Linked DNA regions of Homo sapiens. The protein of the gene in region 1 interacts with the protein of each later gene in a biochemical or structural test. Each region holds a gene or a part of one and is shown in the gene's direction. Other genes may lie near its edges. The genes, in order: SIK1 and HDAC5.

Evidence for each region.
Region 2: of the proteins of SIK1 (region 1) and HDAC5, one has a biochemical effect on the other in vitro, tested with the Homo sapiens proteins (3 studies listed by BioGRID).

What each region holds. Positions count from the first base shown.
Region 1 is NC_000021.9:43,422,106-43,438,374, reverse strand, and holds the start of SIK1 (serine/threonine-protein kinase SIK1), read left to right. Parts: upstream 1-11,243; 5' UTR 11,244-11,365; intron 11,366-12,182; 5' UTR 12,183-12,196; coding exon 12,197-12,352; intron 12,353-12,851; coding exon 12,852-12,968; intron 12,969-16,269. UniProt on the Homo sapiens protein: Serine/threonine-protein kinase involved in various processes such as cell cycle regulation, gluconeogenesis and lipogenesis regulation, muscle growth and differentiation and tumor suppression. Phosphorylates HDAC4, HDAC5, PPME1, SREBF1, CRTC1/TORC1.
Region 2 is NC_000017.11:44,108,998-44,124,604, reverse strand, and holds the start of HDAC5 (histone deacetylase 5), read left to right. Parts: upstream 1-963; 5' UTR 964-1,101; exon of another isoform or gene 1,102-1,351; intron 1,352-4,009; exon of another isoform or gene 4,010-4,167; intron 4,168-4,501; exon of another isoform or gene 4,502-4,618; intron 4,619-6,900; 5' UTR 6,901-7,089; coding exon 7,090-7,111; intron 7,112-8,609; exon of another isoform or gene 8,610-8,693; intron 8,694-13,339; exon of another isoform or gene 13,340-13,623; intron 13,624-13,801; coding exon of another isoform or gene 13,802-13,804; coding exon 13,805-13,876; intron 13,877-15,607. UniProt on the Homo sapiens protein: Responsible for the deacetylation of lysine residues on the N-terminal part of the core histones (H2A, H2B, H3 and H4).

The sequences.
Region 1 (16,269 bases):
TTAAAAATATATATTTATAAAATATAAATTTGGTAGCACAGATTCAATTATGGGACATGGCCGGGAGCAGTTGCTCATGCCTGTTTCCCAGCACTTTAGGAGGCCGAGACGAGTGGATCACCTGAGGTCAGGAGTTTGAGACCAGCCTGGCCACAATGGGGAAACCCCGTCTCTACTAAAAATACAAAAATTTGCCAGGCATGGTGGCGCGCCTGTAATCCCAGCACTTTGGGAGGCCGAGGCAGGAGAATCGCTTGAACTCGGGAGGTAGAGGTTGCAGTGAGCCAAGATCGTGCCACTGCATTCCAGCCTGGGCAACAAGGGCGAAACTCCATCTCAAAAAAAAAAAAAAAGCCAAAAATATCCCCAGAAAACAATTATGGGACACACTGTTTCTAAGTGACATCTAGGGGCAAAGCAAACACAGCTGCTTTCTAAAGCCCTCCAGGGCGTGGCGCAGCCACGGAGCTTGCCCCCACCGGGGGTGGCTGGGCATGGCTCAGGAGCACCTGTGCTCCTGGTTCTGGGCCCTTCCAGTGGCTGCCTGAAGTGCCAGGGTGTCAGGGCAGCAGCAGGACCCGTCCACCGGGGTGGGGCAGGGGAGAGCATAGTTCCCACTGGGGAAGCATGTCGGGTTCAGGGGAGACGCTCCGAATGGAGAGAAGGAGGTTTTGGGGATGAGAAAGCTGAGGTGTCTCTTGAGAACTCGGAGCTCCTGGGAGCACCCGGTGTAGTCCTCGCAGATGTGGAGCCCAGGCCAGGCTGCAGGTGGGCTGCCAAGGCCCACCCCACTGCCAGCCTCTTGTGCCAGGCCTCCCTCCGTGCCAGAGGGGGCTCAGGTTTCTAAGGACGGGGCAGGGAGCTACTGGGAGGTCCTGTGGCCCTTTTGGTTCTTGCTGAACTATGGGACCTGGCTTAACATTTTTTTATTGCAGTAAAATACACATAACATAAAATTTACTATTTTAACCATCTGAAAGCACACAGTTTGGTGACGTTAAGTTCATTGACACTGCTGTGTAACCATCACCACCATCCACCTCCAAACTTTTCCCTCTTCCCAAACTGAAACTCTGAACCCATTAAACACTCACTCCCCCAGCCCCAGCACCTCCCACTCTACTTTCTGCCTCTGTGGATTTGAGTACTCCAGGGACCTTGTGCACGTGGAACCATACGGCATTTGTCCTCTTGGGACCAGCTTCGTTCACGCAGCATGATGTCCTCCTGGTTCCTTTGTGTTGTAGCATGTCTCAGAACTTCCTTCCTTTTTAAGGCTGAGTAATATTCCATTTTGTGGAACATTCTGTGTCTCCATTCATCTGTGGATGGATGTTTGAGTGTCCCACCTCCTGCTCGTGTGAACTGCCTGTGGGATCACCATGCCATCTGAGGACTCACCGACCATTTCCTACAGCGACTGCACCATTCACATTCCCGTCAGCAGTGCACAAGGGCTCCGGCTTCTCCACTTCCTTGCAGACACTTGTAATTTTCTGTTGTGTTTTGATGGTAGCCATCCCAATGGGTGTGCGGTGGCATCTCACCGTGGTTTTGTGGACCTGGCATTTTAGAGGGGATGGAGACGAGGCAGTCATGGGGGTTCCCAGGGACAGGGTGGTGCCCCACTATCCGGTCTGGCTCACCTGTCCCTACTTCCCCGTCTGTTTGGTGGGCTTCTGACCCCCACCTCCCCAGCATGGGGAGAATGTGGCCAGAGGGGAAGAATCTCCTGCAATGCCCAGCCATCCTGCCCTGTCCCTGGCCCCTTCCGGGAGAGGGACTGACTCAGTGAAGGGTGGACGCTTTCACTGTTCCAGTGGCTCACCCTCCGTATGCACACCCAGGTAAACCGGTCAGTGAAGAAACACTCCGAACAAGTCAAGGAGGAGGCTCAGCCCTCTGGTTACTCCAGGAAGCTGCCGGTCTTCACCCACACAGAGCCCCGGCCCTTCAGGTAGGAGCGGCCAGAGGCTCTGAGGTTGTTGCCTTTGACCCACTTTCTCAGCCTTACCTAAGAAGAGGACTAGAGGAGCCAGTAGGACAGCTGGCCGGGGCTGGGGCAGGACAGAGCTCCACAGGGACCCTCAGACCTGCTGGCCTCGGCCTGGTATTGGGTGGGGAGTGGGGCACAGCCCATTCCCTCCACAGTGACCAGGTTGGGTCTGAATGACCCAGTTTGGCTGTCCACACTCCAAAAATGTGGGACAAGGGGCCTCTGGTGGCCTCCTTTTGGGAGGGCATGGCCCCTGGGTGAGGACAGCTGTGGCCCCCCCTGTGCAGCCTGCAGGAGGCCCACAGACCGAGGCCTCCAGGGGAGCTTCTGCTCCTGGGCCAGGGCATCTCCTGACCCTCTCTCTCCCCTTCTCTTACCTGGTTTTAGAGGCAGCGGGTGGATGAGCAGCCGGTCTAGAGAAGGGCTCAGACAAGTCCTGGGCATCCCAACAGTAGCCTTGAGGGACACGTGCTTGTCCTATTCCTAACTCCTCGGCATTCTTTATGAGTGGGGGAACCCATAGGGGGTCCCTGGAGGCAGTAGATGGGGAGCAGGCATCGTCAGGGTGAGTCTGGTCTGGGGCTCGAGGCGAAGGCAGGGCGAGGATCCTGGGCTGGCCGTGTTCTCTCCCTTGTCGTCCCCTGCCCTGCTCCCCCGCTGTGTGCTCTCCTGTGTCGTCCCCCGCCCAACTGCTTGTTATCCTGGAGCCCTCTCCCAGCCCCACTGCTTAGCTGGTGTCTCCCATTCTGGGAGTCTCCTCCCCACCCTCCCTCACCCCTCGGCCCCTCCGATCGAGATGTGCCCGTACCAACCTTGCCGTTATTTCAAGGGTGCCCATCAGTGTGTGCGCCCTGGACCTTAGCTTCATCTCTGTGCCCTGCCCTCTTCGATGCTGGTGTTGGTGGAATCGAGTCTCCCCAAAACTCGCATCCCCTGGATGCTCAGAATGTGACCTTATTTGGAAACAGGATCTTTAAAGATATCATCAGTTAAATGAAGACAAAGTCAGACTGGATTTTGGTGGGCCCCCATTCCAATGGCTGCCGTCGTTATAAGGAGGCGGCAGGAAGACGCGGAGATGGAGGCAGAGGCAGCACTTGGAGAGATGTGTCTACAAGCCACAGGACACCAAGGCTTACCAGCGGCCACCAGGAGCCAGGAGAGGCATGGGACAGGTCCTTCCCCACAGCCTGCAGAGGAGCTCAGCCCTGCCAACAGGCATTCGAGCTTCTACTTCCCAGAACTGTGGGGGAATACGTCTCCGTGGTTTTAAGCCCCCAGTTTGCATTTCAGCAGCTCTAGGAAGCCAGTACAGTACTGAATTCAATATTCATTTAATCCGAGTTTCATTTTTAACTGCATGGTATGCGGTGTCTCCTGTTTCTCCCTAAGCCAATCAAGCCTCATTTAAAAAGAAGAAAAAGGACTCCCAAAGAGTAGCATGGTGGCCTGCTCAGGAACGCAGGGGCAGAGGCAGCAGCAGGGGCAGGGGCAGCAGCAGGGGCAGGGGCAGAGGCAGCGGCAGGGGCAGGGGCAGGGGCAGGGGCAGCAGCAGGGGCAGGGGCAGCGGCACGGGCAGGGGCAGCAGCAGGGCCGTCTGCACTGGGGCCTGCCCCAAAGCCGTCCCACCTGCACCTCACACCAACTTCAGGATGCTGGGACCACACACTGTTCATAAAGAAATGGAGGGCAGGCGCAGTGGCTCACGCCTGTCATCCCAGCACTTTGGGAGGCCAAGGTGGGCGGATCACCTGAAGTTAGGAGTTCAAGACCAGCCTGGCCAACATGGTGAAACTCCGTCTCTACTAAAAATACAAAAATTAGCTGGGCGTGGTGGTGCATGCCTGTAGTCCCAGCTACTCGGGAAGCTGAGACAGGAGAATCACTTGAACCTGGGAGGTGGAGGTTGCAGCGAGCCAAGATTGTGCCACTGCACTCCAGCCTGGGAGACAGAGCAAGACTCCGTCTCAGGAAAAAGAAAAAAAAGAAAAAAGAAACGGAGGCCCAGGCTGATGATATCACCGCCAGGGGTGCCCAGCAGGGACAGTCGGAGCAGGGCTGTGAGCCGGGTTGAGGAACCCAGAGCCCACCTCCTCCCACTGTCCTGCAGCTGAGCAGCCCCAGGCCTGTGAGCCAGCTCCGGCCACCAGCAGGGATCAAAGAAGGAATCTTCCAGCCCTTGTGCCAGAATCACCCGGGCACCTCCATGGGATCTGCCAGGCATGGACTGAATGAGAACCTTCCCTGAGGACACCAACTGCTCCAGGTGAGGGAATGATGAAGGCTGGGACACCCAGGCCCTCCACTGCTTCCTGTCTTTTAAGTGCTGGAGCTTCTGCTGGATTCCATGTTACAGATCATATCACATCCTCCATTCTGTGACATCTCACCTCCACTGTTGGGACATCACCCTGGGAAACCCAGGGTGGCCCGTCCCACCTGAGAAAACTGAAGCAAACCCAGCTAGTTTGAGGATCTGAGACTCCCGTGGTTCCAATCCTGGGGGCCCAGGTCCTGAACCTTCTTGCTGATTTCAGATCTGCAGTTTATTTGTGCAAAAAAAGGTTCTGGAAACTTTCTTCCAGGCCTCGGAGTGACCGAGAGATTCCTGGCCCTGAGGAAGAGCTGATTGGACCTTCTTCCTGGTCCAGCTGGTCCCAAGGGGCTCTGCCCAATTTCAAACTGTCCCCTTGTTCTCAGTAGTTTTGAAATGAGCTGTGTTTTACAAGAAACACATACTTATTTTTCCCCATCACACTTTCGTTCTTTCTGGTTTAACAGGGACCACGGTGGAAATGCCAGCGAGACGGTGGTGTGCTGGTGCCACTGGGCCTGGTGCCACATCACCACGTCCCTGTAAGGTGTCACTTTAGAGTACTCTGTCATTTTCATTAGCCGATCCCAATGACGTCTGTACTTGCTCATGCCATACGCAGCCCATGTGTTTTCTTTTCAAACAAATAACAATACCACCCAAAACCACAACAGCCAGGTCAAAATGAATGACACCCATTGCAGGCCACACTGCAGGGGCTGGGGCTGTCCTTAGGGCCCTGTGTCCTGCTCGAAGTCAGGGGCTTCCACGGATTGACTTGGCAACCCAGGGACTTGGCTCCCTACTCTCTTGTTTTTACTTTTTTTCTTTCTTTTTTTTTTTTTTTGAGACGGAGTCTCGCTCTGTTGCCCAGGCTGGAGTGCAGTGGGCAATCTGGGTTCACTGCAACCTCTGCCTCCCGGGTTCACTCCATTCTCCTGCCTCAGCCTCCCGAGTAGCTAGGACCACAGGCGCCCGCCACCACGCCCGGCTAATTTTTTGTATTTTTAGTGGAGATGGGGTTTCACCGTATGAGCCAGGATGGTCTCGATCTCCTGACCTCGTGATCCTTGGCCTCCCAAAGTGCTGGGATTACAGGTGTGAGCCACCGCGCCCTTGGTTCCCGACTCTCTGTAGCTCCCAGACCCTGCATGGCAGCCACACCCGTGGGTCCCAGGAGGTGTGTGGGGCCCTCTGCTTAAAGATCCCTCTCAGTGGCTCTGCCTGTGGCCTCCAGAGACCCCTCCTCCTCAGGCGGTGCTGGCCCACGGGCACCAGGCCGGGCATCCAGTCTCGACTCCGGTGGCTCTCAGACAGCCAGGCTGTCTTAAAACAAGGCTCCTGAAATGTGGAGAAATGGCTCATCGAGTGCCAAATGTCGGCATAGGGCCGGGGACCACGAGAGGCTGGGGATGGATGAGCCAGGTCAGGTGGGGCCACAGTCTCATGCTGAGCTGTGGTGTCTGTTTCCACGGGGCCTTGAATGGCATGAAAAGGGCCCCCGATGCTGCCGCGCCCCCGATGCCGCCGCGCCCCCGATGCCGCCGCACGGAGCTGTCCAGTCGGGATGCTGAACATTGCCACAGTGGAATTCTAGGCAGACAACTTCAGCTTACGGTTCTGCTTGCCATTTGGTGACCTGGCAAGACACTTCCTAGATAAGGCTGGAAAAGGCAGGACGCCTCATCCTGTTTTAATAAAAAGTGAATAAGAAAACGTCAGCTATGAAGAGCATTTCCGGTGCTTTTTGTTTTCATCTTTACATACTTACTTTCTTGATTTTCTATGGAACCTTTTCTATTAATTTTTATACTTCGAAGAAACCTGCTTTATAAGAGAAGGCCCGGCAGTGGAGGGAGCATTTCATCGTTTTCCCATAGATGCAGCTGAGATGGAGGGAGACCCATCCGGAAGCCGTGGAGAGAGCGTCTCCTCAGCCCGCCCTGAGACGGGGGTCCTCCTCTCTCCCCCATGGTCCGGGCTTGGCTTCTCTGGGCTGTGAGATGCACAAGTGAAACGCTTCAATCTCCAAGGCCAGAGACCTTCCACCCACAGGCCTCACGCTCCTTCCTGCCACCCGCTTCCCATCGCAGCTCCTTGCTCCTCAGCTTGGCTCCAACAGCCCCAAGTCCCTGCCTCCCTTTCCCTGTCATCCTCGCCTGGCCGTGTCAGGCCGTGAAGCCGGGACAGACCACACTGCTCTGTGCACACCCCGGGCAGGCAGGCGCTGGGCAGCAGGTTGCAGATGGATGTGGACGGCGCCAAGGACCCCCACTGGGTCTGTCTTCCCAATCGTGGCCTCTGCTCTTCTTCCCCTCTGCTGAGAGCCTCTGCTCAGCATTCAGAGAGGGAAGGTGTGGGTGGCTGCCTCCTGCCCCATGCCCCCCGCCGGGGCTCCACCTCTTCTCTCTCCTGGAGCAGTTGGTGTTCTCAGGGAAGGTCCTCGCTCAGTCCACGCCTGGCAAATCCCACGGAGAGGCCCGGAAGCAGTTCCCTCCATGGCCACTTTCCTGCCAGCATTCTTTTCTTACTCATCATCTTATGCTGTTACTGTCTCCGCAACTGGAACCAACGGTCCTCGAGAGAAGGTGTCTTGTGTCCCTCCTACTGTGCCCACAACCTTCACGCAGTGCCTGACACACAGCAGGGCCTCTCGAGCCTTTGTGGACATCTGGAGGATGACTCCGAACTCACCCTCGCGTTGCACCGTCTCACCTCTCTCTGGGGACCTGTCCCTTCCCACAGTGAACTTCGAAGCATGTCTGTCTGTCACCATGTTCTGGCACAGTCTGGCCATGCTCACCTGTGTCCACCCGCTGACTCATTGCAGCTGGCACACTTGTTGCAAATGGCAGAAACTCACATTATTTTGCATAAGTAAATAGTAACCAAAAAAAAAAAAGATGGTTTACCATGCTCTACACTAGCAGCCAGCATGTCACCTGGAAACACCGAGACCTGAGCTGACACTCAGACGTCTCCATCTCCCGGGAGCCACGCTCCGTGTGGCCCTGGCAGAGTGCCCAGGATAAAGAGCACGGCCAGCACCTGCTCCAGTCCTGGTCCCCAGTGTCTGCACAAAGCTGCAGCATCCCAGAGGCTTCTGCTCTGCCTCTGGGGACCTTTGCTCCGTTTGCGGATGCGGTTTCCTTCTTCCTACAGAGAGGCAGGTGGTTTACTCCAGCGCTGCCTGCTCAGCACAGGGTGACCTCCTGCCAGGCTGTCCATGGTGCTCTTCCTAAGTGAGCACTCCCCCCCGGGGGAACCCCTGGCTCTGTTTGGGGCCTGGCTGACTCTCGCTGGGGCTGGCCCCTTCCTGCACCCCCCTCCCCCGCCGTCCGACCTCAGCATATGGCTCAGGGACACAGACACCCAAAGGCCTCTTGGGTCCTCAGCCTTGATATCGGCCACAGCCCTGCTTAAATGTCAAGAAAACGCATTGGCCACATGAATAATTCCTCACTAACGGCAGCGACAGAAACCGGAACCAGAAACCCTAGAGGGCTGGAGCGGGGAGGGCCGACTGGCCCGTGAACAGGCACGTTTCTGCTGCTTTGCCGGCCTTCGTGGTCCATTTAAGCAGCCCGTGGAAGGCCTAGCCTGAAAGTGGGTGCTGTCTGAGATGGGGAGGGGCCCTGGGCCCGGTAGGATCCACACAACTGTGGCAGCCACGGAACCACAGGGAGCCAAGTGTAGGAGGTGAAGGAAGCAATGCCCTGGGGGCGGACGCTGGGACTGGGCAGTCTCTGGTTTGACCTGTTCGCGGGGGATTCTTGACTTAACCTGTGGACAACTGGGCCATTCCCTGAGGGTGGAGGGGGCTGGGGGCTTTTCTCCTACCTGCCCTCTTCCCAGGCCAGGGCCGTGGCTTCCTGACCTAGTGCACACATGTCTGTCTGTCAAGCTCTCCAGATACAATGGGGCAAAATGACCAACGTGGCCCCCGGGTCCCTGAGAAGGATGCCGCTGCAGTGGTTAATCTGATTTTCTGGCACCTAAAGCCGCTAGGCTGAAGCCTAAACAAACCAAAACAAAATTTAAAAAGTACAAAACCACCTGAAGCAAAGCCAGGAAGACAGGGAAGGGCCTTAGGCGTCGAAGATGGGAGGGTAGGGTCGGGAAGAGGAACTCGTCTGACTCCTGGCTGCACTGGGAGATTCCTTCCTCACAGAGGGCGGCACTGGGGCCAGCTGGGCACCCATCCCTTTGCAAAAATGCTGCCCCACGCTCCATTCTCTGTGTTTATCAATTGATTTTGAGAGTTTTGTGACATGCCAGTGGCCAGCGTTACAACTATGAATAATAAATGGACCCATTTCCTGTTGGGGTTTCCAGTCTTAAGGCCTAAAAAACAAGATGAACTCCAGAAACACGGCAATCATAAGACAAGCTGAAGAAAGTCCATGTGGAAAGGAAAACTGACTTGCCGTTTTCCACAAATCTGTAATAATATGCAAACCATAATAATAAAGTACCGTTCCTGCAGACTTTGGGAGCATTCCTTCCATTATGTTCAGTGAGGAGCTTCTCCAATCATTTGCTTGTACCATCCTTACACTCACACCATGTGTTTTATTTTTCCTCGTGTTAAAGGCACGGAAGACCAGAAAACAGAAAAGAAATCAAAGCTTCTGAGAGGAAATACAGCCTCGGGGGGTCAAGGACACAAACAACAACAAAAGACATTGGGTAACAGAGACCAGGTTGAAGCACAGACTTAGTTATGAGGGTGCCAGGGGTTCCCCCAGTGGGGAGACGGGACAGCCGTTCCAAGCTTGGCCTTTTCCTCTGTGCTTCCTGCCTTTCTCTGCAGAGCGAGCTCCTTGCCCACGGGCCCAGGGAAGGGAAAACAGGATGGCCATGGTTGGCACAGGGCTGTTCTGGGTTTTGGAAGCTCAGGGCTGGGTCAGGGTGAAAGGTCAAGTGCACCTGAGTTTGGGGACCTGTTCTGCGGAGGCAGTTTTGGCTGCAGTTTTTATTTGGTGCTGATGCAATGTTTCCAAACAGCCAGCCAGGTGTTTGCAAATACCTAAGACCTTTTGGAAGACTCTGGCTAGGGTGGGAGGGGTGGGGAAGCCTGCTTCCTGGATGCGGGGGGCAGTATTTCAAGTCACAGGCTGAGGGACTGAATGGTGAGTGTGATCAGGGGCCTGGTTTCTCCCCCACCCCGCCTTTTATCTTTGTTCTTTTTTGAGACAGGGCCTTGTTCTCTTGCTCAGGCTGGAGTGCAGTGGTGCAATGACAGCTCACTGCAGCCTCAACCTCCCAGGCTCACGCCATCCTCCCACCTCAGGCTCCCAAGTAGCCGGCCCCACAGGCGTGTGCCACCACACCTGGCTATTTTAAAAGTATTTTATAGAGGTGAGGTCTTGCTATGTTAACCAAGCCGGTCTCAAACTCCTGAGCTCAACTGATCCTCCTGCCTCAGCCTCCCAAAGCACTGGGATTACAGGCGGGAGACACGACGTCCAGCCTTGTTTTTGTTTAGTTCTCCTAGGAGCGGATTAACAGGGTGTTGGGACCTCCAAAAGGAAAAAAGGCAGTTGTACACTGTTCAGCTGAAAGGAACTAAAAATATTCCCCCGTATTCTTGGTATATAAACCTGGGACAAAGAAAAACACTCTGAACGATTAAGGAAAACTTTGGGACTCTTCATTTCCTTGAAAGCCTTTGAAAACCAACTGACTCCCAAACAACCCGTGTGTGTGTGTGTGTGTGTGTGTGTGTGTGTGTGTGTGTGGCGATTGGGAAATCTGTGGTCAGACCCTCGGGCGAATGAGGAGAAGCTCATCCTCGTTTCTCCGGGCCCTCCTCCCAGGCGTCCGTCCAGGCAGGAAAGCCTCCCGAGAAGGGTTCCAAGTTTTGTGCCAACTCCCCTGAATTCTCGTTCCCCCTTCTGTGAAGTAGTGTTATTTAACACAAGGAAAACTGACCCTAGGCTCGATCCAGAATCTAACTCCCAAATGGGTCCTCAGGCTTAAAAAATACCTTCGCCCACAGCCTCTGTCTCCCCTGAAGAAAACGTTTTCCGTTCGGATGAGGCATCGGCCACGGGCAAGCAAGTGGTCCCGCGCCCCCGTCCCCTACCCAGGCGGCCGGCCTGGCTCCGTCACCGCCCGCAGCGTCCGCCCGGGGCCCGCGCGGGAAGAGGGTCCCAGCCCCACATGCTGCGGGGGCAGCCCCGGGACGCGCAGACGCCAGCGCCGCTGAGGGCCGGGGCCGGGACCGGCCGCGCGGCGGGGGCTTCCAGAGCGGCCGGTCACGCTTCCTTAGGTTTCAAGTTTCTAACTTGCTGAACATTTCAGATTTTAACAGCAAAAGCGGCTGACGTCCCCGCGGGCAAGCGGCCTCTCGGGGTCTGCAGCGCCCCAGGGCATCCGCGCCGCCAGCCCCACGCGCGAGCCCGCGAGGCCCCCGGGCCCCCGCACGTCCCGAGGCTCTGAGTCTGGACGAACGCAGGCCGCGTGGAGGGGCCGGCGACCCCTGCCCGAGAGCCGTCCCCTCCTGGAGGGAGCGAGCACAAGGCGCCCGCGGGACCCGGCCCGAGTGCCCGAGCGTGGAGGGGCGGGCGCGCCCTCGGCGGTGGGGCCGCCCGCAGTGCCCCCAGCGCCCGGGAGGGGGCGCCCGGCGGAGCGCAGGCGGGCGGGCCTCGGGCGGCGGGCGCCCCTGACGTCACCGGCCCGCGGTCGCCAGGGCAACGGCCTCATCCCGCGCGCGTCAGAGCCGCCAGTCTCTTGGCAACCGCCCGATCTCCCGCTCTCCCTCCGCCCGGCGCTCGGCCGCGCGTCGCTCTGGCGTCAAAGCGACGTCAATGGGCGGCCCCCGCCCGGGCGGCGGGGGCGGGGCAGGGGGCGGGGACTACGGGGGGCGGGCCGGGGCGGGCCGGGGCGGGGCCGGGCGCCGCGTGCGGCGGAGCGCGGCGGCTCCGGGCTGACATGCGGCGCGGCCCCGGAGGCAGCAGCAGCGGCGGCGGCAGCCGGAGCAGTAGGCACCCGAGCAGCGCCAGCGGCCGAGCGGGCGGCTTCCTGGCCTGGGCGCTCCGGTGGCGGCGGAGGTGAGGCGGCGGCAGCGGCGGCAGCGGCGGCAGCGGCGGGCTCCGGGCGGGCGGAGGTGGCCGCCGTGGGGGCTCCGCGCGGGCGCCGGGCCGGGGCTCGGGGTTGCAGCCACCGCGCAGGGTCCCTGGCCTTGCGCGCGCGGGGTTCGCGGGCGGGGTTGGCGGCCTGGCCGCCCTCGGGCTCCCCTTTGTTGGGGGGCCGGGGTAGGAGTGAGTCCGCGGGGCTCAGGGGCTGGGGAGCCGGGGGTCAGGTTGGAGCCGACCGCGGGCGGAGATACCGGGTGTGGGGGGCGGGTCCGCGATCCCCGAGGTGCCTGGGATGTCGGGGGTGGGGACCGGACGGATCGCGGGCGGCGGGGGCAGGGTGTGGGAGCGGGGCAGGGGACGGTCCTGGGATCCGGATCGAGCCGACCTCGGGTGGCAGGGCCAGGTGTGGGAGCGGGTCCGCGCCCAGAGGTGCTAAAGGGGTCGAGGGTGGGGACGGAACCGACAGCGGGCGGCGGGAGGCGAGTGTGGAATCCCGGCTCAGGGGGTCCCGGGATCGGGACGGAACCGGACTCGGGCGGCAGGGGCCTCTATGAGAGCGGGTCCGTGCGCCCCGCGGGGCTCAAGAGGGTCGGGGGTCCGGGTGGAGCGGGCGGCGGGGGCGGGTCCACACCTCCCACGGGGCTGGAGGGGCCCGTGGATAGAGTGGGGGCGACAGGCGTGGGAGCAGGTCCCTGCGTCCCGTGGGGACTGGGGGCTCCGCGGGCACGGATGGAGCCGACCGCGGGCGGCGGGGGCGCTGGTGGGCTCTGAGCTCTGTGCGGCCCCGCAGGTGCGCGCGGAGCCATGGTTATCATGTCGGAGTTCAGCGCGGACCCCGCGGGCCAGGGTCAGGGCCAGCAGAAGCCCCTCCGGGTGGGTTTTTACGACATCGAGCGGACCCTGGGCAAAGGCAACTTCGCGGTGGTGAAGCTGGCGCGGCATCGAGTCACCAAAACGCAGGTGCGTGGGGGCGGTGGGACCCAGCCGGCGGGGCCTCCCCACTGGACCCGGGGCGACCCGACCTTTGGCGGGTGGACCCCATGCAGATTCACTGCTCCAGGCTTGATTGTCGTGGTGGGTAAATAGTAACCGTTTTTAGTTCGGTAAAGAAAAATAATGCTTTATATTATGTTGCTGCATAATTTGGACATATATTGGGAGAAAGCAGAGAGGATAATAGCAAAAAAAAGGACCAACCTAAGATTGCAGTGGTTCATGGACTCAGAGCTAAACCCTGTAAAGTGAGCCTGCAAATACTTAAGTCACTTACTTAACTCTGATTATTTTAAATAACATTAGTGGTTACTTTGGTTATGTTTTCCCAACTTCTTGTGACCTTCTGGAGACAGAGTGTTGAGAAATTAACTTGCAAAAAATGAAATGTGTAAATTAGGTTGAGGGTTTCTTTTCTTTTTTTAAAAAAACCCACAGAATATCCTTTTTCTTTTTAAATTTGTAGGTTGCAATAAAAATAATTGATAAAACACGATTAGATTCAAGCAATTTGGAGAAAATCTATCGTGAGGTTCAGCTGATGAAGCTTCTGAACCATCCACACATCATAAAGCTTTACCAGGTAAGGGGTCAGCTTGCCTTTCTCTGCTAATCCTGGCAAATGTGTTATATTTTATTTCCAACAGCATAAGTCTGCAATTTCTGAAGGTGGCTTCCCTTTTGGGGAGTGTGTGGAAGTTGGGCATTTGGTTGTATAAGGTAAATAGATTGATTTTTATAGGCTGTGCAGATATATTTACAATTATTTTATTGCTTTTGGATCATAATTGAGATTTGCTTCATTAGAATTTTATTTAGTATCCTAACCTGATCCAGTTTTAAATGTGTAGAAGTCTGTTGTAAATTTGCTTTACTATGAAAACAGACAAACTTATCTGTAGGTATTGCCACAGGTCACGCATTTAGTATAAAAGGACAAATTTGAGTGAAACTGGAAACTTCTGCCTTTGCAGATAATTATTAAACTTTAAAGCCAGCTGCTCTTACTGGTTTTCATTAGTTTATTTTTGCAAGGACAGTAGTGAGCATTTGTTTTCCCTATTTAAACTCTTCCATGAAAAACGGAGAGATGAAAATACTTTTCCATAGTAAGAGCAAGGAGCTTGTCATTTAATCCATGCTAGGAACATGGCTTGCCCTGTCTCTCTGTTGGTTTATTTTGTGACTTAATTTTTGTTCTCATGTTGAAATTAATAAATTATATCATCAGGAAATAAGTACTAATTTAATTAGAACAGCAAAGCAATCATTTACACCTCCCTAATGACAAATGACCACTTTTGCAAGGTGAAATCAAGTCTTCTTGCAGAAGAAGTTCTTTGCAGGTGCTATTTCATCCATTTGTGTTGGGTTGAAGTTCCTCGTAATGATTCTTATGAAATGGAATGTGAGATGACTCTGGGATGTTGTTGTGTGTGTTTGTGCAATTAGGACAGCTCGGTGTACAGTGTGGTAGGAGAGAGAATTATGATTCGAAATTATCCCCCAAAAGCCTCTGCACTAGATTGAAAATAAAAGTAGCAGTATTGGTGGAGCTTACGACAGTTTGCTCAGTGTCTTTAAGCACAGAATTCATGCCGTGTGCGCCTGGTTTGTGTTTTGTTTCTGTTGTCATTTTTAAGTTGTGTGCTCCATGGCCACTGGTGTACTGCCTGTGCAGCGTGCCCAGCCCATTTCCTCAGGAGTGGGCTGAGCTGGTTTTGTTTTTGACTTTGCTCAAGGGCTGAACCCTAATGGTAGTACCTTCCTTTTCTTCCTGTTCTTCTCCTTTGCCCATTGTGTGGAATTAGCTCCGTTAAAGAAACAAATTGCCCATGTGTTTGCTGCTGAGGTCTTTTCTGGAGGTGCATTTTCTTACTGCTGCTGTATGTGATTCTTAACTGTTGGGAGATGATAGAATTCAGTGGTGTAGCAATGACTTTTACTCCTCTGGTTTTGATGCTAATGTCTAATTTTCTTTCTTTTCTTTCTTTCTTCCTGTCTTTTTTTTTTTTTTCTTTTTTGAGACGGAGTCTCTGTCCGTCACCCAGGCTGGAGTGCAGTGGCGCGATTTCGGCTCACTGCAACTGCCGCCTCCTGGGTTCAAGCAATTCTTCTGCCTCAGCCTCCCAAGTAGCTGGGACTACAGGCGCCCGCCACAACACCCAGCTAATTTTTTGTATTTTTAGTAGAGACAGGGTTTCACCGTGTTAGCCAGGATAGTCTGGATCTCCTGACCTTGTGATCCGCCCGCCTCGGCCTCCCAAAGTGCTGGGATTACAGGCATGAACCACCGCGCCCGGCCACTAGTGTCTAATTTTCATTCCGCTGGCCGGGGCCCCAGAACCCTGCTGAGACACTTCCCTCTTTTTTTCAAGTTTTCAAAAAGTTCAAACACTTTGACTTTTAATTCTTTTCCTCCTCCTCCCTTTCTTCAGTTGGGGACGGGTCAGCAGTGGTCTTAGAGTTATTGTACCACCCACAGGGGCGGGGCAGTTAAAATTCTTGCCAAACTGCTAGAATTTATAGAACACTTTTCTTTTTAGATTTATAACTCAAAGCAGCAATCTTTGAAGCATCTTTTTTTTTTTTTTTTTTTTTTGAGATGGAGTCTCACTGTCGCCCAGGCTGGAGTGCAGTGGCGCTATGGATCGTGACTCACTGCAACCTCCACCTCCTGGGTTCAAGCGATTCTCCTACCTCAGCCTCCCAAGTAGCTGGGACTACAGGCACGCGCCACCACACCTGGCTAATTTTTGTATTTTTAGTAGAGATGGGGTTTCACCATGTTGACCAGGCTGGTCTCGAACTCCTAACCTCAAGTGATCAGCCTGGGTGATCCCAAAGTACTGGGATTACAAGCATGAGCCACCACCTCCAGCACAAAGCATCTTTTTAAAGGAATAACTATATTTTGAACCCAAAAAAATCTTTTTTCATAAGAATATATTGCCTCATCCTCTCCAAAATTTTTCAATACTCACAGACATAAGTTATATTTTTAAATCTCTTTTTAAGTAAAATAAAGTTATTGATTAGTGAATGAACTTCAAAGGGCTATGTTGGCATGGCTGTTGTGTGGCTACATGCTGAGTGAATGGCTACATGCTGAGTGAATGAGGCTGGATTCTCACAGCCTCATTCATCCTGTCAATAAAGCTGGGTTCCCACAGCGTCATTCATCCTGTCAATCAAGCGAGTGGGAATGGGGTGTGCATTCTCTATTACCCAGGTGGCTCTGACCGTTGGCTGGAATCATCTGTTGCCTACTAGGCTTCTATAAAGCCCAGCAGACTTCCAGCAATCTCCTCCTCTGTAGCCTTCAGAATACTGTCTCTCCTTTTTTGAGATGGAGTCTCGCTCTGTCGCCCAAGTTGGAGTGCAGTGGTACGATCTCGGCTCACTGCAACCTCCGCCTTGCGGGTTCGAATGATCCTCTTGCCTCAGCCTCCTGAGTAGCTGGGATTACAGGTGCCCACCACCTCACCTAGCTAGTTTTTGTATTTTTTGTAGAGATGGGGTCTTGCCGTGTTGACCAGGCTGGTCTCGAACTCAAGCGATTCTCCTGCCTTGGCCTCCCGAAGTGCTGGGATTACAGGGCGTGAGCCACCATGCCCCGGCCTAAGCATTCTCAAATTGTATGTGAGGTGTCTTGAATTAAATATGACCACAGAGGGGAATTCTAATATATTTAGACCTTTTGTGAGAGCAAAGGTGTATCAGGATAGGCAAGTCAGTGAGGAATTCACCTCTGATTTTTCAAAGCTGTCTTTGTGAGTAGGAATCTCCTATTTTTTTTTTATTTGAGAAATTTTTCTTTTTCTTTGCATTTTTAAATGATGAATGCCTTTGTCCTAGAGAAGTTAGAAATTTCCTGGGGTTCT
Region 2 (15,607 bases), on another chromosome or scaffold:
GCCTCCGCCTCCCAAAGTGCGGGGATTACAGGCGTGAGCCACCATGCCCGGTCCCCTATAAAACTTTTAATGTCTGGATAATATTTTACTGAATGAATGTCTCCTGCTTTGCTTGCCAATTCCCTATCGATGGATATTTAGGTTGTTTTCAACTTTTCACATCATTACAAACAATCTCATGTTCATTTTTTAACATAACAACGTTTATTTATTTGGAATACATTTTTGTTAGTGGAATTGCTGGGTCATTGACAAATTGTCTAGGTCTAATTAAACATGTTCATACTGTGTACCAAGAGGAGATGTAGCGTGGATGGCACCAAAGTCAGGGAAGTCTTTCCGGCTCCTGGTCTGCTGGTCTGCCCTTTTGAAGGCCTTGGAGTGTTACAGCCATACCCTGGCCTTTCCCAGGCTTTTCTTTCCCTGGCACGGATGCAGTGTGTGCGGTCAGAGCTGGCGAGTTCGAGACTTGTCCGAACCATCCACCCGCAGCCAGGCCCCGCTGCAGAGGCTGCGGTGGCCCTCCCAGCCCCTGGGAATCTATCCCCAGGTCCCCTCCCCGACCGCGGGAGGGCGTGTTAGGGGAGCAGCTTAGGCAAGCGACGATTGCACCATCCACGTTTTGAAAAGAAAGTCCGGGGAGCGCAAGGAGGAAACTTTTACAATCCAAAGGTTGAGCCCCAGCATCCATACTCGGCCCCTGCAGCGATCCTTCCACTCCTGCTCGCTGGGTTCCGATCCCTTCCCTTCCACCCCGTCTCGGCCGAACCCTGTGCTGGGCACTGGCCCTTTAAGGAGCTGTCACGATGGCGTCGCTGGCCCCGCCCGGCGGGGAGGGCCGAGAGGCAGGGGAGGGGTTGGTGGTGGCTGCGGGCAAGGGGAAGGCGGGGGGGGCTGGGGGGGGGGTCTGGGTCTATTTTTAGCTCCGGGTCGGGTCACGTGACGGGAGTGACGTCTCCGAATGTTGTTGTTGGTGGCGGCGGCGAGCGGAGCCGGAGGAGCCGCCGCAAAGATGGAGGAGCCGTCGAGGAGGTGCTGCCGCCGCTGCCGCCGCCGCTGCTGCCGCCGCCGCCCGCGAAGCCGGAGCTCGAGCCGCAGCGGGTGAGCGCGCCGCCCCGGCCCAGATCCCATCTTCCCCGGACCCCGGGACGCGAGGCGGCGCCCCCTCCTCCTGCTGTCTCTGTCCGCGGGCTCCCAGCGCGCGCGCCGCGCTCCGCGCCCCCCTTCCTTCCTCCCGGCCCTGGGAGCCAGCCGGCGCCCCCCGGGAGCATCGGCAGCCCGTGAGCGGGACATCGGGGTTGCTGCGCGCGCCCCTCCCTGCCCCTCCCAGACAGGGGCGCCTTCCCTACAGGTAAGGGAGGGGCCCGCCTTCTCGCGCCCTGCGCCCCCAAATGGCTCGGAGACCGGCCGGGGTTGTCTGATTTGCCCCTTCCCTGGCGGCGCATGTTGCGTTGCAGAGCCATTTGAGCCCTGCACCCGGATTCTGTGCAGACCCCTCTTCGCTGGACACCCCTTTCTTGGTACTCTGAGGTGAGGGGTGCTGTCCACCCAGAGCGCTTCTCCCCATAGCTACGAACGCATCCTTGATTTTATGTCCTTGACTTCCGTGCATGAGGAGGGGGACTGCGGAGTCCACCTTACTTCTCTCTCCCATTATTCTCACCCCGTCTCCTGTGAGGCGTTACTGCGTTTGTTGCCACCCTCTTCTCCTGTCTGACACCTTGGAGCCAGGATGCGAGAGCTAGGAGATGAAATGGAGCTCCCCCCCAACCCCTTCTTGTCTTGGGTGGATGCCCCCCATTTTTCATCCTGGATCTGTATCTCATGGAAGCGGGGGCACTACCAGTGCCTTATTAACTTGGGGGGAGTCAGCTTCTCCACCCCACCCTTCCCTGGGGCCCTGGGGAAGATGAGAACTGGCTGGGTGTAAGTAATTAATCTGGGAGCTTGGTGGGGGCTGTTGAAGTGGGGAGGTTGGGTGCTTCCTTTGGGAGAGGAGATGACCACTTGATACCCCTGGCTGATACCCCTTCTGAAATGAGGTGTGTCCCTAAAGAGGAAAGGTAACAGCTGCAGTTGCTTTTAGGAGGGTGCAAAAGGGACCCATCACTCAGTCAGTGACCACCATGCTTTTGGGATCTGGGATTAGATTTGGAGCTTGGGGAGGTGGTGGTGATTGGTTTCAGTGTCCAACTGGGAGGGGAGGATGGAGCCAGATTATGGGAACAAAAGGAGGTGGGGGGGAGGGTGAGATCCAGGAGTCTTGGTCAGAGGGACCCCTAGCCAGATTGCCTTGCAGGATTGCAGTCTGGGTCTGGGTCCTGCCTTTGGCTTCCTCTTAGTTTCAGAGGATGTAGGCAGGCAGGCATGGTCTTCAGTCTCCCCAGTCCTAGGCACCCTGAGCCTATGCTGGCTGTTGAGATGCTGGGCTGGGCTGGGCTGGGCTAGGCTGGCTGGGCTGGATGGTGGATGAGCCATGTTGGGGGCTGCCTGCTTCTTCATTCCAGTCTTCCCTCCTTCCTCTCCCTCCCTAAACACAAAGCTTGGGGAGATCTTGGTTTGTCTCCTTCCTCTTTTCTTGACTCCTCTCTTTGCCCTCTCTTCACTTGAACTTGGATCTGGGCTTTCTTGACAAAGCAGTAGGGGTCTCTCTGAGTTAGAGAAATGGGCCCCCAGTATCTCCACTCTGTCCTGGGAATGTGGGCATGCCAGAGACCAGAGAGACAGATCTCAAGTGTGGGTTACTTGGGGGCAAGGATGGAGGAAATGTTAGTTCTGTGCCAGCCTCCCCTTCTTTTCCAATATATCCTCCTACTTTGGCTGGATCATGTAATTTGGAGGGGGGCAGCAGTTTCACATGCCCCACCCACCCCAAGTAGCTGCAGAGACAAAGGTTTGCTTTGCCTTCCGTAGGGGTGGCATCTTAATTGTGTGTTTAGAAATGGGGCCTGGGAATGTTGGGCGGGGGTCATTTGTGTTCCCGCATAGTGGGGGAGGGGGCATCAGCTATAGGAGCTGGGGGTAGTGCAGTCGGTGCTGAAGTACCAGCTGCTCTTTAATAATTAATTCTTCCTACTCACATCCCTTTGAGGAGGGATGTCTGGAACACAGCATTAGGCTCAGCCAGCCTGCTAGAGGACGCACTCCTGTTGGTGGCAGTAGGGGGGGGAAGGGGGAGACAGCAAGGGGGGGTGGTTCTTGGCATTTTTGGAGCACTGTAGCTTGCTCATGAATGAAAACCTGATGTAGCCCGTGAGGGGGCCTATTGTAGCCGACTTTAGCTAATTAAACTTTCTCTGCCTTTCTTCTTCCCTATCCCACCTCACCCCAGGCCCAGCCGCAGCCCTTTCTTGAATGGGGACCCTGCCTGGTAGTGCTGGGAAGAGGGTATCATTCTGCCTGAGGTTTTAGGGCAAACAGACCCCGTCTTCTGCCCTCTGCCTCCGCCTCCTCCCTTCCTCCCCTCTCACCACCCCCCTCTCTTTTTTTTTTTTTTTTTTTTTCTAGAAATAGCAGCCTCCTCCATCTGGCTTGTGCAGATGCCTGGAGCTGCGTCTGAGCAGACAAACAGAAATGGGCCGATTGCAAAAATGAATTTGTCAGCCTGGTGCCTTTTTTCCTTCCCTGTCACCCTCCCCCTTTCCCTGGTTTGGGGCCTGGACATCCAAGTCAGCCACCCTTCATGGCTCTGATCCTTCTGGGCTTCTGTTGGCCTAGCTTGGGGGAGGCACTAGGCAACAGAAGCTCTCAGAGGCTGAGGAAAGTGGTAGGCTGTGGCCATGGTCAGGAGGGGTCAAGATAAATTCCTAGTGCCTTTGACCTTTGGGTGGGATGTCTTGGCTTGTAACTTTTTTTTTTTTTTTGAGATGGAGATTCACTCTTATTGCCCAGGCGGGAGTGCGATGACACAATCTTGGCTCACCGCACCTCTGTCTCCAGGGTTCGAGTGATTCTCCTGCCTCAGCCTCCCGAGTAGCTGTGATTACAGGCATGCGCCACCACACCTGGCCAATTTTGTATTTTTTTAGTAGAGAAAGGGTTTCTCCATGTTGATCAGGCTGGTCTGGAACTCCTGACCTCAGGTGATCCGCCTGCCTTGGCCTCGCAAAGTCCTGGGATTACAGGCGTGAGCCGCCGCGCCTGGCCGGTTTGTAATTTTTGATGAAACTGTCGGGGTAGAGTGAAACAATCTCAGACTCCCAAGACTTGATTCACACTGCTTGACCCTGTCACCTATGACCTAGGGGGTACCCTGGCCTGGGGCCAGAGCAGGTGTGTTGGGAGGGGGTTGCATGGTGGTACTGGACTCCAGGATCCAGAGAGGGTCTTCAAGGGACACCTGACTCCCCAGGAATTTTGAGGGAGTTGTTTGAGGAACAAGATCTCTACAGGGTAACATTGTGAACCTATGGCCTTTGGAGCATTGCTTTGTACCATGTGCCCCTCACTTGTCTGCCCTCCTCCACCCACCCTTTGCCAGAGTTTGGGGTTTCCACCCTACTTCCATAGGCTCAGCCCTGAGCTTGTAGGGTGAGATGTAGCCTGTTTCCTTCATCCTTGTCCGGCTGTCTTGGCTGGATGTGGGAGGTGGTTTTGGATCCCGGAGTGGGGTAGGGGTCTGTCTGGAAGAAAGAGTTGGTGTGAGGTAGTGGGGTGGGCAGGGGTCTGTCTGCTTATGATGTCCTGGAAGTTGGGCCACTCCCTGGTTTGGCATCCAAGTGTTAGGTCATCTGGGACACAGCTCCTGGTGTCCCTGACTTCCCACTGAGACCCAACAGATTTCTCTGGCAGATGTGGGAACAAACAGCTCAGGTTTTAAACATCAGGCTCCCCTTCTCCCCTTCATGTCCCACCCCAGACAGGAATCTGTGCTTGTCCCGATCAGACCATGAACACTGCTTTGTTTCTCAGGGAGGCTCAGCCTGTGGCTCTGGTTCACTTGGGAGACTTGATGGGGGTGTTGGCAGACACTCTTTACAGGTGGACAGGGCCCAGGGGCCCAGGGATCCTGCTGAATTTTATAGGACGGGGAGGAGTAGACGTAGATGAGTCCCGAGCCCACCATGAGTTCAAGGAGCTGCTCCCTTCCTCTTCTGCCTCAGGGGTGAGGATCAGCATCTTTAAGACCCACAGAGAGAGTAGGTGGGTTAGGATGATGGGGGCTAGGGGCTAACCTTAACCTGGTTTCTGTGCCACTGGGGCTGTGCCCCTTCTGAGCACCTTGCTGTGGAGGTGCCTCTCACTGTGGAGATGGACTGGGCTACTCAGGCTGCTGGGAATCGTGGGCATTTCTGAACCTGTGTTCCCCAGCCCACGGGAAAGGGTGTGAGCAGGACTGGGTGCCAGCCTTGGTGTGGGCACAGGCTGAACTGCCTGCCCACGTGGGCCCTGCCAGAGCACCAGCAGCCCTACCTGCCACATTCCTGAGCTTGGCCTCAGCCCTGCCTGCGCAGCCTTTTTTGTCTTAATCCCATACCTGTGCCCGTCAGGAGCAATTTAGCCCCTTCAACTCTGCCCCCCAATCTGAGTGCACCTTTCTCCAGCCATAGAGTCCAAGCCCTGTGGTCCCAGCAGCAAGCCTGGGACCTCAGGGTCTCGTGTGTGCATGTGTGCGTGCATGCGCATGTGTGTTCATGTTCTTGTGTTTCTGCCATAGCTGGCTTCTGGGCTTCTGGGCTCCAAATGGACCCCACCCTTGGGAATCTGATGAGAATGTAAGGCTTACTGAGAATTAATCCTGCCAGGAGGTGGGGCTGTCTAGGGGGGCAGAGCTGATTGCTGGTTCGAGGCTTGGGGAGCAGAGTTAGGGCTTAAACTCGCAGCAGCTCACAGCCTCCTCTGATGGCTTCCTGCTACCTTGCTTTCATTGGGTATTGGAGGGCCTGCCTTCATTTGGAAGCAAATGAATGAGATCATGTCTGGGGTGGATCGTGGGCCGTTTAGGGATGGGCCAGGTGTCTGTATGCATAGTGTCTGAGGCTTGAGGACTAACTGTGGGGGAGAACTGGAGGAGTGGGCATGGGTTGGCAAAGCCGTGGTCCTGTAATACCTCCTCCTTTACTATACTGGCCTCAGCAGGGCTACTGCTGGGCCTTTTGTTGCTTTCGTACAAACTGGGAAAAAATCGTCCCTTGTTTTGGGTGGACTCAGCATGTCAGGCCATGGCTTGGCAGGCAGGGCACAGGCTGGATTTCGTATCTCCCTGGGCCAGACCTCCTTACACAGAGCACAACCTGTACAATATACACAAAGTGCTGGGCTTGGGCCCTGCACCTGCCAGGCCAAGGGTACTAGATTTGGGATGGAGAGGTCTCTGACTTTCTCAATTCCTGGAAAGAGAAGCTCTTGTCCTGGTCTGTTGTTGAACTGTGGGAGACCAAAACAGAAGCACATCCATATTTCCAGAGCTGGGTGGCACAAGGATCAGAAAGTCGGGAGAAGACCCCTAGAAGTCCCAGCTTAGGCTATGGAGGCTGGGATACCAGTTTCTCCCTTCACTTCTGCCAGGGACTCTAGATCAGCCCTGCATCTCCCCACTGCTATGGATACAGATCAGAAGCCCCCCTGCACTTTCTCCTTTGGTGCACACCTAGTCCCATGGCAGGCACTGTTGGGAGTCTATAGGGTCTCCCCAGCTGGCAGTAGACACTCACCTGAAAAGGGGTCTGTTGGGTTTGGCCACCATAGCCATTTCCTATCCCTTGGGCTCTGGGAGCCTCATCAGTTAGTAAGATAAGAAACCAGGGTCTATCCAGTTCTGCAGATTTCTCCTGTGGCTGTGGGCAGGTATCCCTCCCTCTCATCCCTCATCCCCAGGTACAAACTGATGAGCTCCAAGGTCTCCTTCGACTCTCAGATTCCTGAGTTAGGGGCCTCTAACCCTGCTCCATCTCTCCCCAGGGATGCCGTTCTGAGTGCCTGACTGCCTCGCCCCGAAGGATGGCCTCGGATGGGCATTAGAGGCACGGCGGCCCCGGGCTCCCGTCCCGTCCGTCTGTCTGTTATCGTCTGTCTCTCTTGACATCACCGCAGCTCCACCCCCTCCCGTCCCAGCCCCCAACGCCAGCTTCCTGCAGGCCCAGAGCCGGCATGAACTCTCCCAACGAGTCGGGTAAGAGCTGGGAGGTTGGAGAAGAGCACCCTGGGGTAGCTTCGGATGCAATGGGCTGTGTGGGTTTCCCTTCCAGGCCAGCTGACCTTTACTGTCTGAGCTATAAGGGAATGAGGGGGTAAGGAGTGGAGAAGTGTTGCAAGAAAGGGCCCATGAGGTAGACCTGGGAATCGAGGGATCGATGGTCCGGTCTGGTCCTGGGAAGGCAATGGGTCCTACTCTGCCCCCCATGCTTGCCCTCTCAACTTAGGGGTGTTCAGCTCCAGCTTCGCCTTCCCCTGCTAGCCAAGACAGGTGGGCCTGAGGGGGCAGTGTGTATCCCTTAATCTCTCTGGGCAGTCTGGGATGATGTTGGAGGAATTTCTTTACTATAGCAGAATGCTCAGCTTCCTTTTCGTGATGGTGGCTTCTTTACTTAGTGGAATGTTTGTGTTCCATACTTTTTTCTTAGTGGAGGTTTACAAGGGCACTGGGCCTTAACCTCCGTGTGCAGGTGCGTGGCATTGGGTGGGAGTGGGGTGACGTGTGTAGAGGAGTCTCGGCTCTCCTCTGAGTCCAGGTAGACTGCCTCTCTTCCTCTTGGGCCCTTCATATGGTAGATTGCTAATCTGGGGTCTTTTACTCTGAGATTTCCTGTTCCTCTTTGTTCCTAGGACCCTGTCCAGTGCTGCCAGAAATAGTCTATTTGGGGGACTCTAGGCAGCTTGATGTGCAGCTGGGTCTGGATGTATGCCTGTGAGGCTGTGTTCTAGTGGCCTGAGCTGGACCCTCAGCAGTTTCCCAGGAGGGTCCTGGGGCAGTGTGGTCAGAGTAGTGGCTGTCGTCTCCTCCTCCTCGGGTGTCTCCTTCCACACAGTGTTAAAGGTCCATCTTGCTCAACTTTAGCTCTCCACGGCCCATCGTACTCCTCATCTTTTTTATGTAGGGGTAGGTGGATATTTCTCCTTTTAGAGATAGGGCAATTGGGGCCTAGGATGAATACCCATTTGCAGGATTGTACAGAAGCAGCATCAGGGAGGAATCCAGACCACCCCACATTTTCTTCCCCATCATCCTTTCTGTAGGGTTTGCTGTTCTCCTTCAGATATTCCTCCCTCTGCCCTTGCCCTCATTCAGCCCCTAGGGGCTGGGACAGGTGGGCTGCCCAGCTCTGCCCTCTTGCTTGCCCCTCTGAGGCTGGATGGCGAAGGGAAAGGAGAGGCCTGGGTCCTCATCTGTCCCTCGTGCATCTTGGCTGGACACTACCCCAGCAAGCTCAGCCATGTCGGGCAGTAGTGCCAGCTACTTCTTTCCTCTGAGTTGTGACGCTGACCTGTCCAGGAGCCATCTGCAGTCCCTGCTTCCCATGGGGCTGGGGTCTAACTCTTGGCCAAGGGAATTGAAGCTGCCTAGCGGCATCTGTTGGTGGCTTGGAAAGGATTTTTCCCAGCTTTGGGGTTTCTTTCCCTTGCAGGGAAATGTGATAATCAACCCAGGATAGATGAAGTTATTGGGTTACCTTTCCAGATGCTGGCGGTCCAAGTTTCCCTTGCAGCTACCTCTGTGGGAGCTGACAAGAGTGTTGGAGGAGCTGGACGTGTCCACCAACGCAGGAGGCTGGCAGCTTGAGAGCCACTGCTGAGCCCTGGCCAGGAGGGGCGTCCTGAGTGGGCCTGTGGAATGGGCCCCGCGTCCTGCCTGGCTTTCCAGCTCCCCCCAGCAGGGGGAGATGCTGTCTTCTCTGTGTTGGGGAAAGAAGGAAAAAAGGAGGGGGCCAGGGATTGGGAACCTCATTTTAGGATTGTTGAGAGGCTTTGGAACTGGGGCCACTGCTTGGGGATGTTTGCTTGAGGCCCTTCCTGCAGAGTGTTCCTGGGGTTCTGGACTGGCTTTCCCAGTTGTGGGGTTCCAGCTGCCCTGGGCCAGGGAGATAGTCAGCCTCCCCCCAGCTCTTCCTTTCTGAGGGGCCTAGCGTCTGCTATTCCCAGAGCTTGGGCTGGCATCTGGGCTAGGGCTGGGGTGCCCAGCGCCTGGCAGAAGCCTGGAAACCACATGCCTTGGAACTCGGCGGAAGTAAAGTGAGACCACCGATTGAAGCCAGAGCACGCGGGTGTCCACTTCCCTGTAGAGAGCCCCAAGAAGGAAAGGTATGGGCCATGGGGCAGGAGATAAGAGGTGGGAAGGAAGGAAATGGTTAGTCCCCAGGGTCTGCTGCAGCCCCTGAGCGCCTCCCACCTTTTCCTCACTTCCCTGAACACTTGCTCCTCTTTCCCCAGAGTAAAGGACAGTAGGCTTTGTAAGGGGCAGAGCTTCTGGTTCCCCTCAAGTCCTCTCAGCGTAGGAGCTTTTCAGTTTGGCAAGTCCTCACTGAGTATCACCAACAGGCTCAGCCTGTGGAAGACAGAAGAAAATATGAGATGGGCCATCCCTGGTCCTCACAGTGAACATGTTAGCAAGAGAGACTGTTTTGGTGAGGGGCAGCAGGTGGAGACTGTGAGTGATTTCCTTCTGGGGCCCACTGCCCAGGAAGGTGGGAGCTGATGACTTCCCTCTGGCTCGGGCTGCCTACCAGCCTTTGACTTTATTTACCTCTTTTGCAGTCTTGGAATCACAGGCGGAGGCTATTGATGGGGTTGCCTGCTTCCCTGAGACCATTCCCTGATCTCTGCCTTTTCTTCCGGCAAAAGGGGGTTTGAGGATTAAGGCTGTCTTTATTTTTCTGGAACTGTTTGCTTCTGCATGTTCTCCTCAGTGGGGCTGAAAGGCTGACAGAACTTTCCCTCAGCTCAGACTCGGCCCAACCAGGTTGGAGGAGCTGCCCAGGGGCCTGGGACCCAGGCCAGCTCTGGTTGTACCCTCTTTGTGCCATTGCCCAGAAGAGCAGGCAAGAGTGAGGCCCACTGTGCAAGCCAGTCTGGGTGGCAGCGGGGCCATGGAGGAGGCGGCCAGGATCCTTCTCCCCAGTGTGGGAGGGAGACAAGCTTCATGACAACACCTGCCTGCCCAGCGCCTCCCAGAACCTTCACACTTTCTCTCTTTCCCTTTTCCAGGATGGAGGGCAGCAGCCCCCCCCCCCCACGCCTGCTCTCTGGGTGACCAGAGAAACTGGGGCATGGGTGTGGGGTGGAGCCAGGAACCTCGGTGTCCTGCCTTCCAGCCTTGGGCTCTGCCTCCTTCAGAGCCCCCAGGGAAGGCAGGCAGTGAGAAAGTGGGTCAATCCTGGCATGGGGCTGGGGTCTGAGAAGTAGACTCCTGGCCTCCCTTCTCTACTGAGATGCCCCCTGGCACACCTCTGTGCTCACTGCAGAGCGGGACCTGCTTCTCCCCTCCTCTTCCCTGCTCTATCATTCCAAAGAGATTGAAGGCTTAGAATGGAATGGCCAGAGAAGGCAGGGTCAACCCTGAGGGGAAGTAGAAGATGCCAAAGTAGGTGTTCACATTTTTCCTGGACTTGGCTTCAAATGAGAGGGTTCAGCCAACACCTAGCATGGGGCCTGGCTGGCACATGGCAGCTCCCAGGCCATGCTGATGGGCTCCAGCATGACTGGGCTCGAAGGGCAGGAAAGAACAGGAGGGTGGGCAGGTCTGATATCTGGGTCTCAGGGAAGCTGGCATCTCACACTTCATCCAGGGTGCTCCTGGGCCAGCCATTGGCTTTTTCACTGCACACTAAGCAGACCTTGCTTTCTTCCCTTTGGTCAAGGTCCCCCCATCCCCACAGCCTTTGGGCTCAGGAAATGGAACCTGGAGCCAGGGTTAGGCTCTTTTCCTCCTTCAGATTCAGAGGGCTAGGAGGTCAGAGTGCAGCCTTTGAGGGAGGGGCAGAGTGAGTCTGGGGAAGACAGTCCTGGCTCTGGGTGAAGCTCATGTACCCCATGCTTGGTGGGTGCTCCATAAGGTTTGTGGGATGATACATGGGTGTGCTGGTTGGGAGAGAACGGAAAAGAGAAGTGAATTGCAAGGAGGGGGGCTAAAGCATGAAGGATTGAAGTTAGACATTAGGAGGACCTTGTATCACCTGAATCTCAGAAGAAAAAAAGACATTTGTCCCCATCCCAGATCTCCTCTCTTATTGCCTTGGAGGGTTCTGGGAATTGCACTGAGGATTTTCTGACTGTGTCTGATACTTTGCTTCCTACTTGTTGGAGGCTGTAATGGTGCTGGGAGCTGGCTCCCCAGCTCCCGGCTCCAGCCACCTCTGGGTGTCCCTGTCCTGGGTGCTACTATCTTCCCTAAGCAGGAAGTCCTGTTTCCTTCAATGTCTGGGTGCTCCAGGTTCTGGGGGCCCTGCTTTTGAGTCCTGGTAACTGACGCCTTCCTCTTCTTTAGAATAAGGCTCTCCTGCCACACTCTCCTATGCCTGGGGCAGGCAGAGAGAGCTGGGACAGGGCTAGCCAGCCCTTCTGGTTACTCCTAGCGTGGGTGGGAGGAGTCCTGGGCTGGGAGGGGTTGCTGCTCTTGGCTTTCTGGGCTCCCTTGAATCTGCTGCCCATCACCCCACTGATGGAGACCTTCCCTTCCCTTCCTCTTGAGAGGGCCTGGTTGGCCAGGATGAGGTTGGGGCAAGGGGTGGTGAACAAGATCCCCAGCCATACCCTGAATGTCCACCAGCACTAGGCCTCTGAGGGAGTACTGTTCCACTGCCCTTTTTCTAGAATCTGCCCTGGTTTAGAAGCTGCAGCTCCAGACCCCTGTTTCTTTGCTGGTCCACCACTGGGTACCCCCTGGCAACATATACATCTTGCTAGTCAAGGGCCTGGGAAAGCCTGCCTCTGCCTATAGGTGTGGTCCCCCTAATCCTCCCACTCCCAGCCTGAGGGCAGGAGACCCCTTTGCCATCCCTGACTGGCAGAAGCTGGCTGGGAAATTGGGCTCCAGGAGCCACAGCCACTGTGTCCTTGGTTGGCCAGCTTCTCCTGGGCTCCCAACAAGAGGGTGAGGTCATCCAGTCCAGAGAGAGGACAGGTGTCCCTGGCTCCATGCCTGGAGTGGGGGTCAAGGAGGGGGCTCCAAAATAGCAACTGTGACATCAGGAAGGGGGAGGGGGATATAGACACAGGAATAACCAGGCTATTAAAAGGCTCTAGTGAGGTCAGGGGGCCAAGTGGGATCTTTGTACCAGTGGGAGGCACAACCTGAGGAGCAGGGGCAGGCCAGCGGTGGGGAGGGCGGGGGAGTGCCACTGGTCCTCATGGTGCACCAGCCCCAGGACCCAGGGAGCAGGGGCTGTGCTGCCAGGCCTGAGGCTGGCTGGTGGGTAATGGCTGGATGCTGAAAAACTCTTGACTCTCCTTAGCGAGGTTCCAACCTCAAGTCTCTTCCTACTTGAGCACAGGGGTCATTGTACCTGTTAATAGAAACCCTGGGAAATGGGAGGCAGTGGAGTGTGGTGGTTAGAGCTCAGACTTGAGCCTCAGACATCCCAGCCCTGCCATGTAAGCAGCTTTATGACCTAGGGTGAGTGACTTCATCTCCCTGTGCCTCAGTTTTCCCATCTGTGCCTCTCCCAAGGTCACCACGCAGAATTAATGAGATGATGTATATGATGTTCGTAGCACTGCACCTGGCACATTGCCATGGAGGAGCTACCTGTGCTCTGAGAATTAGCAGATGTTCCCTGGTCCCTTTTCCTGGATTGGGGTGAGGAAAGGGGACCAGGGGACACCTGTCTGCCCAGGAGGAGTATCCCTACACCCTAGAAAGAAGCTGAGGCTGAGCAGCCTCTGGAGGCGACACTCCAGAATGAGCGGGAGGGAGCTGCCATTTAGCAGGTGTTTAGGGGTCTCTCTGCTGGTTGAAGGGGTGGGGAGGCACCTCTCAACTCTGTGGGAGGGCAGAAGTTAAGCAAACCTCCATGGGGCTATTAGAACTCCAGGGAAGGTGCCTGTGTGCCAGCCTCTCCTAGACCCTTCCAATTCCTTTACCTGTTCTGGAAGGCAAGAAGAAAGACGGAGGCTTGAGTCTGGCTTCTTGGTCTCCATCCCCTGGCTTGCTTGCCAAGAGTAGCAGCCAGAGCCGCTCCCAGATGCATGGGTACCCTGGCCGGCGCCCTTCCCCAGCCCAGCCTCTGGCCACCCAGCGCTGTGGCCTTGGCCCTGAGTGCAGGCCCTCCCCTGTTCCCATCCCCCTCGCCTGGCGCTTCCTCCTGGGGTAGAACCGCCTCCCCCCCCATGGGGCCTCCTGGCAGCCCGCCCGCAGCTCCCTGAGCATGCTCCACCTATTTATAGACAGGGCCCTCCCCCAACTGCTATTTCAGTCTCCTGCCAGCTGCCGGCGGCGGCTCATTCGGGAAGGAGGAGCAGGGAGCCGGGCCCAGAGCTGTCACCCAGGGTTGGGAGGGAACACAGAGCCCGCCTGCCCGCTGAGCTCCCCTTCCTGTCCCAAGTGCTCAGCCATACCCCAGCTCCCAGGAACCAGGGAGAGGCTGGTGGTCGGATGCCCCTCTAGAGCAGAGCTGGGCCTGCAGCTCTAGGGCCTCCCTGCCCCTCCTGCCGCCAGGAGTGCCCAGGCCGGATGAGGCACTTCCCTACAGTGTGGGTCCCGTCGGCAGTGGCCTGAGGGAACCTGTGCTGTGCGGGCTGCCCGACCACCTTCCCTTCGGTCTGCTCCCCGCCTCTGGCGGCCCCCTCCCTGGCATGCTGCTGGTGCCCAAGGCTCAGGGGCTCGTGGAGATGCTGCAGACCATCTATGAGACAGAATCCTGTTTCTCAGCAGATGGGATGTCAGGTCGGGAACCATCCTTGGAAATCCTGCCGCGGACTTCTCTGCACAGCATCCCTGTGACAGGTAAGTGCCTTGATGTCCCTGCCTGCCCTCTGTCATCTGGCATCCTTGTCCCTGGGCTGAGCATCTGGCCCTGAGCCTTGCACAGATAGGGTCCTGCATAGATCTGTCTTGAGAGTTTTGTTGAGAATACACAGGGCTGGGGGATCCCTGCTCAGAGAGGCCCCTGCCCTCCCTGCCCAGAGCCTGCTGCTCCCCGGTGCCCCTCCGCTGTACTCTGCTGCATCTCTTCCAGTCCCTTCAGTCTCTGGCAGGGTCGGCATCCACTGCTGGGGGCTGGGGGTTACTGGAGGATCCTGGCCTAGTTGGCACTGTGGTCAGAGGGGAGGAAGTGGGTCAGTGACCCGCCTCCATGCTGCCCGCTCCCCAAGTTTGGGCAAGGGAAGAAGGTGTAGCTGGGTGTCCACAAGAATAAAGGTTACTCCAGCTCCTCTGGCTTGGTTCTTGGGGCTACAGGATCGAGTACAGTGACTTCCGCAAGTCCCCAGCCAGGAGTCTCTTGAGAATCAGACACTTGGGGAGGCTTGGTGCAGTCATGATGGAGTTAGGCAGAGGCTGGCAGCTTGGATATTGAGGGGCTTGGCTGCCTTAGCCCCTAGCTGTCTCCCGATGGCGCTCCTCTCCCCAGGTCTGGGTTGATTCCCATCTCATGAGGATGAAGAGGTGTTACTCTGGCTCAGATGGGCTTCGGGACCCCCTAATCCTGCCACCTTCTCAGCAGGAACTTTTTTGGCTCTTGGCTAGGGGTGGGGTCCCCCAGAGCTGGGCCGCTCCTTCCCTCACTCCCAGGAACCTGTTGGCAGCATCAAGCCTTCCTGGCACAGCCTCCCCACCAGGCCGGCACCACAAGATGCTTCCTCCAGGGAGGGGCCTGCTGGACCCATGCCTGCTCAGCCCCTCCTGGCAGTGGCTTGGCACTCAAGTGTGGGTGTCTGTGTGTGTGCGTGTGAATGGGGAGTCCTTGCCTCTGGATATGTGGGTGTGCATCCCAAGCTTCAAATTGGAAAGTGGGAACTGTGTGCCTCTGCAGGTGCCTGTGATTTGGCTCTGAGCTGCCCAGGGATAAGGTTGCAGTGGGACTTGGATGTGTCAGAGCATGAATGTTTTGGGAAGATTCAAAAAATCTTTGGAACATGGCTTATCATCTGCCCAGGCAGGGATGCCCATGCAGTTTTCTCATGTAGGAGCATGACCCTGAAGACTAGCCCTGCAGGGTATCCATGCAGGCCCCGAGGATAGGGGCATTACCCTGGGGCCAGCCCTGTAGGCTGGGGTGGGGATGGGGGTGTAACCTTGGGAACCGGCTCTACAAGATACCCACGTAGTCCCCTGAGGTAGGGGCGTATGCCTGGGGGCCCCCTACACAGGTCCCTGGGATGAGGAATAAACCCAGAGGGCTGGTTCTTATCCTGGTCTGGAGTCCACAGGTCCAGCTAAAGACCCTGCCTGCTGGCCCCTAGCCCACAGCCTCTGGGACTCAAGGTGGTCTCTTGGAAGGCAGAATAATCCCAGAGCATCTGCTTGGGACAGCTCCACGCCATCTGGCTTATCAGGTCCACCCATCCTGCCCTGTCGCCTCTGTTCCTTGCTACCAGCAGCAGCCAGCAGTTGGCCGGAAGTTTCCTCCTCAGCTTGTTCATTCACCTGCTTCCAGATTGTACCCCAGAAACCTTGCAGGCTGGGACCCTGCTCTCTCATCTCCTCCCTAAGCCTGGCTGCCCCTGCATGGACTCC